2 linked regions of the Homo sapiens genome follow. The protein of the gene in region 2 purifies or fractionates together with the protein of the main gene of each other region. This does not show direct contact. Each region holds a gene or a part of one and is shown on either strand. Other genes may lie near its edges. The genes, in order: FAR2 and ZP2.

What was found.
Region 1: the proteins of ZP2 (region 2) and FAR2 purify together in Homo sapiens (affinity purification with mass spectrometry; one large-scale study listed by BioGRID and IntAct). This does not show direct contact.

What each region holds. Positions count from the first base shown.
Region 1 is NC_000012.12:29,155,578-29,159,405, reverse strand, and holds part of FAR2 (fatty acyl-CoA reductase 2), read right to left. Parts: intron 1-3,828. UniProt on the Homo sapiens protein: Catalyzes the reduction of saturated but not unsaturated C16 or C18 fatty acyl-CoA to fatty alcohols (FAls). A lower activity can be observed with shorter fatty acyl-CoA substrates.
Region 2 is NC_000016.10:21,204,919-21,208,746, reverse strand, and holds part of ZP2 (zona pellucida sperm-binding protein 2 isoform 1 preproprotein), read left to right. Parts: intron 1-1,756; coding exon 1,757-1,909; intron 1,910-2,971; coding exon 2,972-3,016; intron 3,017-3,162; coding exon 3,163-3,327; intron 3,328-3,828. UniProt on the Homo sapiens protein: Component of the zona pellucida, an extracellular matrix surrounding oocytes which mediates sperm binding, induction of the acrosome reaction and prevents post-fertilization polyspermy.

The sequences.
Region 1 (3,828 bases), on a different chromosome or scaffold from region 2:
CCAACATGCCCAGCTAATTTTTTGTATTTTTCGTAGAGATGGGGTTTCACCATGTTAGCCTGGATGGTCTCGATCTCCTGACCTCATGATCCGCCCGCCTTGGCCTCCCAAAGTGCTAGGATTACAGGCATGAGCCACCGTGCCCGGCCTCCCATCTTACTCTTATTGGTGTTAAGTGCTTGGTGCTATGGGAAGTCAAGTCATTGACTGGGGCTAGTTAGAAGAGGGAAGAAGGGAAAATAAAGATATATGAGCATTGTATATTTACACATTGGGTATCATTACTGAAAAATTGCACAAACTCCAAGTTGCAACCGGCCAAATATTGCTCAAAGAGTAGGGAGTACTAAAATTTGAGGGCTGGTACTATAACTTGTTTTGCATTCTATTTGCAAAGCTAAACACCCTGCCTGGCACATAGTAGGTACTCAGTAAATAGTACAAATGAATAAATGAATGAATGGAATGGAATTGTCATGGGATTTGCAGTCATAAGATGTGGATACTAGCCTTGATGCACCCACTAACTAGATGTGTGACAAGCCACTTTACGTCTTCAGGACTGGCTTTTATTTTCTTTAAGAGAATTGAACCAAATATAGATATGGTACTTGAACATTCTACAATTTCCAGTGTGAATATACTTAGTTAAGACAAAGCTATTTGCACTCACTACTATGTACTGTAGACAAGATGGTGTGATATGTGCCAACATATAGTATGTCTAGGAGTTCAAGGAAGTCTAATTTGGGAAAAGTTTGTTCTGTCCTAAAAGAAACTGAGACCTAAATTTATCTAAGTGTCATCCTGTGATCAGCAATGCATTCAGCGGCACTTGCATAACCATTGCCTCCGGCAGGACTGCACCAAAATAGCAGAAGGAAAAGAAGGAAGAGGCAATGTCACACTTCTGCTAAGAAGAGAGTTATGGCAAGTACAAGTTGCTGAGAAAGAAGCAAACTGCTCATTTGGATGAAGGAAATTAATTCTTTGAAGCCATCAAAGATTCCTGCAGCTTTGAGAATAGTTTGGTAAGTGGATCTCAATCCCCAGAAAACTCTTTGGTAAAAGAACAAGTGCCCATCTTTTAGATCATGTGCTTAGCTTCAGGGCAGATATGTCCTGAAGGTCTTGTGTAAACAAAACACAAGTGAAATAATATTCAATTCAAAATGAGACAATAGTTACAGTGAAATAGAGAAATACAAAGTTGGTTTTTTTACTTATTATTATTTACTGACATCAAGTTGGTTTCATTAATATTTACTTAATATCTATCAGAAACAAATATTATTTTAAGTAAACAGTTTCTCTTAAGTTTTAGGCAAATTGCTCTATGATTTCACTAACTGAATACCATCCATCTTTAAGATGCTAAAACTATGTTACTTCTATCCATACAACTTTCAGTATTAAATATCCTTTATTGAAAATAATAAGCAAAAATCTTTAATACATGCACAAACACTGACTTGTTACAGTTTCTTTTACTCAGTTTATCCATTTCTTCTGGGCAGATTCTTTTGGTTTCTTGACAATACTGTGCACTGGTGAATCTAACTCTGCTGGAAGTGCTTAAGTGGTTTCAAATATGTTGGGACCAGACACATAACTTAATTGCCATCCTAATTTCCAAGGATCTTGCTTTCAAGGATACCTGGGATTTTTGCTCACTTCTGTGGAATGTGCCCTCACAATGACCTGTGATAAATAGTGCACGATTTTTAAAAAATGATCTAAAATGTGGGGTGTTTTTATAACTATTTCTCATTTCTTGGCTCAGGAAATATTATTCTTGCCTCCTATGGTCATCCTGTTATTCATCAGCAGATGCTACTGATCCAACAGCTTCCCAGCTAAGATGGAAGGATGAGTAAGTGGTTGGAGAAGCCATATTTTTGTCTTTTCTACACAAATTCACAGGGAGGAGTGTTTGCTTTCTCTTCCTCCCTTCAGGTGTGGGCTTCAATGTTTTGGGGCTGTCTCTGGAGAAGCCTGGGAAGTTAAAATGCCTTAAAAGCAAGATGTCCAAAAGCCATAGGGGATACATATTATCAACTGCAGGATGAAAAATGCTTTTGCAAACCTGCAGCAGTTAAGGATACAAAATGATCTAGGACTTCGAAATAATACAGCTAAATCAACAAGCAAATGTTATTCTTAGTGTCTGGCAATTACAGTAAGGCTTTTTTTTCATTGTTTAACCACATTGTTTAATCAATTTTCATTGTTTAATTGCATTGTTTAATCACATTGATACATATATATATATATATATATATATATATATATATATATAAAATGTTCTTTGCTTTAATACTGGTGTTGATTAAAGTGGGAAAATGTCTATTGAATGAAGATGTCACCTGAAACCAGTCCTCTTTATAAAGTTAGATATCTCACAGAAATCTTCCAATCAATATGGCTGGCAATGAGACCCATAATCCAAACTCTGTGATCACACAGCACACCCTCGTCTGAAAATATTTTATGACAGCAGTAACAGAGCCAAGCACCAGGTCTCGAAGGTCTTATTTTCTGACTCTACGTTCCATGGAAATACCTGGACTAGCTATTCCAAAATCTCCCCCTATGCTGTGGCAGCTACTTATGAAAGCCCTGGGGATCCTCACGCCAAAGATTCTGATTCAGTAGGTTTAAGGTGGGGACAGAGAAATTTGTATTTCTGTCACCCAAAATTGAGGCTGTCACCCCTAAACTACCACTATTCATATAAAAGTGTGCATTAATAATAAAAAAAGATTGGCTTCATTATTGAAATAAAAATCAGAGGCGACTACTCATAGGAAATCCAATCTGCTCAGAGGTAATAAAATAAAACAGTTAAGTTATATTAGATTTAATTTCCCCCTTACCTCTGGATGCCGTAGTTTTATTTATCTGAGTGCCTATCCTGTATATATGAGTTCAAATGTTTGAATAAAATTTACAAGTGATCACCTTTGCGACTGTCTTCTGCTCTTTACATGGGCATGTAGCGTTAGCAACACCAGCCATCAACAAAAACTGGCATTGTCACGACTCCAATGCCAAAAATAGTTTGTTTCATTTTTAAAATTAATATTATTTTAAATTTACAAGTTATAATTTCATACATTCAGAGGATACAGTAGCCATCACTTATCTTTTTTTTGGTGAGACATTTGAAATTTACTTAGTTATTTTTAAATGTACATTATCATTGACTATAGTCATTCCGCTGTGCAGTAGATCTCAAAACGAATGCCTCCTGCCTAACTGAAAATTTGAACCCTTTGACCAGTAACTTCCCCCCACCTCCCCACACCCTGCACCCCTACCACTTTTTGCCTTCAACCTCTAGTAACCACCATTCTTCTCTCTACTTTTATTTATGAGTTCAATATGTTTAGATTCCACCTAAAAATGAGATGATGCAGTATTTCTCTTTCTGTGCCTGAATGCCAATAATGTTTGAGGACCTACTAGGAAGTCAATTTAACTATTTTATTTCTATCCCCTCATAAATTAAATAAATGAAAAACAAAACAATTAAGATTACCTATGGCAGGTGAGTTTCATAGCCTTAGAGCAGGGGTCAACAAACATTTTCTGTAAAGGACCACAAGGTAAATATATTAGGATTTAAAGGTCATAATAATTGATTGGTTAGGGCACTAAAGCAGTCATAGCCAATAGGGATGACTAGACGAATGATACAAGCTGTTTTCTGATAAAACTTTATTTATAGACACTGAAGGTTAAATTTCATATACGTTAAATTTCCTATAATTTTTCCCATGTCACAGAATATTATTCTTTTGATTTTTTCTAAGTTTTAAAAATATA
Region 2 (3,828 bases):
TGGAAGGCTATTTTGGTGCTAGCAAATAGAAATCTGACCTATAGAAACAGGTGTTAAAAGGCAAACAGCAGCTAAGCAGTAAGGGTTTTTCTATTGCCAAGCAACAGTATTGCCCAATCAGGAATATTAGGAGCAATAAAAGCAACCTGTCTAAGCAGAAGCTAGCAAGTTGTAATTTGGAAAGTTTGGGTTTGACTAGTTGGACATAGGCCTGGGGTGAGTTCTGGGAATCTGCATATCTAACAGTCTATACCATCTGATTACGATGCAGGTGGTCAGCAGTCTAAGCTTTGTACAGATACAGTCTTAGACCCTACTCTGTAAACAGGCTTGAACTGTAAGTCATCTGGTCCCCTAAAGCCCTCTGTGATCAATCAATGAAGTAATCATAGGTCCTTCATGAAAAACCTGATAATTTCCTTCTAAAACAGACCTTCTCAACATTAGAGGTCTTGGAGTCGCATTCCCTTAGACTAAGGGTCTGCAAGCCATAACCTGTGGATGGCCAAACGCAGTCCATGGTCTCTTTCTGAGGCAGGCTTGCTCTGTAGCCCAGGCTGGAAAGTAGTGGCTGCAATCATGGCTCACTGCAGCCTAGAACTGCTGGGCTCAAGGGATTCTCCCGTCTCAGCCTCCCAACTAGTTGGGGCTACAGGCATGCAACACTATGCCTGTCTAATCTTTGTCTTGTCAAAATGGGGATTTCACCATGTTGTCCAGGCTGGCCTCAAACTTCTGGCCTCAAGGGATCCTCCCACCTCAGCCTTCCAAAGCACTGGGATTATAGGCATGAACCACTGTGCCTAGTTCATGGGTTTTTTTTGTGTTTTTGTTTGTTTTTGTTTTGGTTTGGTTTTCAAACTAAGAATGGGTTTTATCTTCTTAATCTTCTTGAGACAGGGTCTTGCTGTTGTCCAGGCTGGCATGCAGTGGCATAATCTCGGCTCACTGCAACCTCTACCTCCCGGACTCAAGCAATCCCCTACCCTATGTCTCAGTACCACCTCAGCCTGCCCAGTAGCTGAGACCACAGGCATATACCACCACACCCAGCTAACTTTTGTGGTGTGTGTGTGTGTGTGTGTGTGTGTGTGTGTGTGTGTGTGTGTGTTTAATATATATATAGAGATGGAGTCTCTCACCATGTTGCACAGGCTGGTCTTGAACTCCTGAGCTCAAGCAGTCAGTCTGCCTCAGCCTCCCAAAGTGCTGGAGTTACAGGCAATGAGCCACCATGCCCAGCTGGCTTTTATCTTTTTAAAGTTCTTTTAAGGAAATATGCTATGGATTTCATGTGGCTCACATGAGTCTAAAACAGTTGCTAATGCATAATGGAAAAAGGTTGGCTGACCCCTGCTTTTAGACTGAGTTTCCTAAGGTCAGGGGTAATAGCAAGGGTAGCTCTACCCAGCACAATGGCAGCTACTTAGGTGCTTAACAAGTATTCAGATAACCTGGGTAGAAGCCCCATACCAACCCCATTCAGCCAGGACCATGGTACTGAGACATAGGGTACACATAAGAGAAATAGAAACTGAACTCCATTTCCTGATGCTAAAACTGGCCTATCAGCATGAGTCTTCACTAACAGATTACAATGGGCTAGCTAGTCTCCTGGTACGGGAATGAGGTACCTTCCAGCACTTGTGGTATTAGTAACTTTAAGGGTTTTCCCACTCAGATGGGTCAGATGGTATTCTAGAATCCCATGGGGGTACAGTACTTACTCTGTTCCCACTGTGCTATCTGTACACAGCATGGTGGACACCAGATGACCATCAGAGTCATGAACAACAGTGCTGCCTTAAGACACGGAGCTGTCATGTATCAGTTCTTCTGTCCAGCTATGCAAGTAGAAGAGACCCAGGGGCTTTCAGCATCTACAATCTGCCAGAAGGATTTCATGTCTGTGAGTGAAACGGGCTGACTGCTCGGGGTATATGGCTACTGCAGGGGGAATATGATGATGATCTAACCAGGGCGGGGCTTAGAAATCAGACCATGATTTAATCCTGTACTTGCTAATTTTCTGTGTGATGAGGTTTAACTTTACCCTGAGGCTTTGTTTCCAAGTCCAAAGTGATGGGACAATAATGCTTACCTCAGGGTGGCTCTAAGAATTTACTGAGGGTATATACATGGTACTTGGCACATCATGCATGGCAATAGGGTTTTATTGGTAGTTGCACTCACACTAATCATCTGACAAATGGAATACATGCCATGTTCCAGGCCCTACCCTAGATGCTAAGATACAATAAGTGAACAAAACGACCCAGTCACATCTTCATGGGTTTAGAGTCTAACATGGCTAATGTCAACAATGGACAACTAAAAATAACACTGACATAAAAGCAACTCAATAACAATGATAGAACTGCATGGCTTTTACATAGTACCTGATTTCTATGGACATTGGTGAAAGGGCAAACGTTTAAGAACATTGTCCTGGTCAGGCATGGTGGCTCATGCCTGTAATCCCAGCAATTTGGGAGGCTGAGGTAGGTGGATCACCTGAGGTCAGGAGTTTGAGACCAGCCTGACCAACATGGTGAAAACCCATCTCTACTAAATACAAAAAACTAGCCGGGTATGGTAGTACATTCCTGTAATCCCAGCTACTTGGGAGGCTGGGGCAGGAGAATCGCTTGAACCCAGGAGACGGAGGTTGCAGGGAGCCGAGATTGCACCATTGCACTCCAGCCTGGGCGATGAGCGAAACTCTATCTTGGGGGGAGAAATGTGTCCCAACTTACAACTGGAAAGGAGCTTAGATCTTCCAGCTGCCTCTTGGGATCAGAAGTTCAAAGAAGTATAATGACATCTAAGGGCACAGTCAGGGTTCATGTGCTTCTTCCACTGCATCCCACAGCAGGCCTTTTGGTATGACAACCACACAGCAATTTCTGGCATGAATTCGGAAACATCTACCTCCAAATCAAAGTCTTACATCACAATTCTTTTCTTCCAGTTTTCCTTGCCACGGGTCTTCTCTGGCTTGGCTGACGACAGTAAGGTATGAAGCAAATTTTAAAAATCAGACCTTAATAACCTTTAATTCTATGTTAAAGGTGATATTACCTTTAACCTGATAAATTGTTAGACTACCAGAGACTTGGTTAAGGGAGCACCAGCCCTCTAAACAAAGCTTTTTGACTTCAGGGGACCAAAGTTCAGATGGGATGGAGCATTGAGGTTGGTGATGGTGCAAGAGCCAAAACTCTGACCCTGCCAGAGGCCATGAAGGAAGGCTTCAGCCTCTTGATTGACAACCACAGGATGACCTTCCATGTGCCATTCAATGCCACTGGAGTGACTCACTATGTGGTAGGTGTGGAAGTCTGGCTTTGTACCACCAAAGCACAGGCCAGTATTCCTAAATTGAAGCATGATCTCAACCATGTCTTCACATTAATTTATAATACAACCCATTTTAATGCCTATTAAGTGCCAAACACTTCGCTGGGTATTCACACCTGTAATCCCAGCACTTTGGAAGGCTGAAGCGGGCAGATCGCTTGAGGTCAGGAGTTCAAGACCAGCCCGGCCAACCCTGTCTGTTTAGTGAAACCCTGTCTCTACTAAAAACACAAAAACTTAACTGGGTGAGATGGTACATGCCTATAATCCCAACTACTCAGGAGGCTGAGGTGGGAGAATCGCTTGAACCCAGGAGGTAGAAGTTGCAGTGAGCCGAGATTGTACCACTGCACTCCAGCCTGGGCGACAGAGCGAGACCATTTCTCAAAAATACATAATCCTTACCTCAATCTAGTCTCTTTCCCATAGTCTTAAATCTATAGTACAACACAGAACAAGCATATTCCT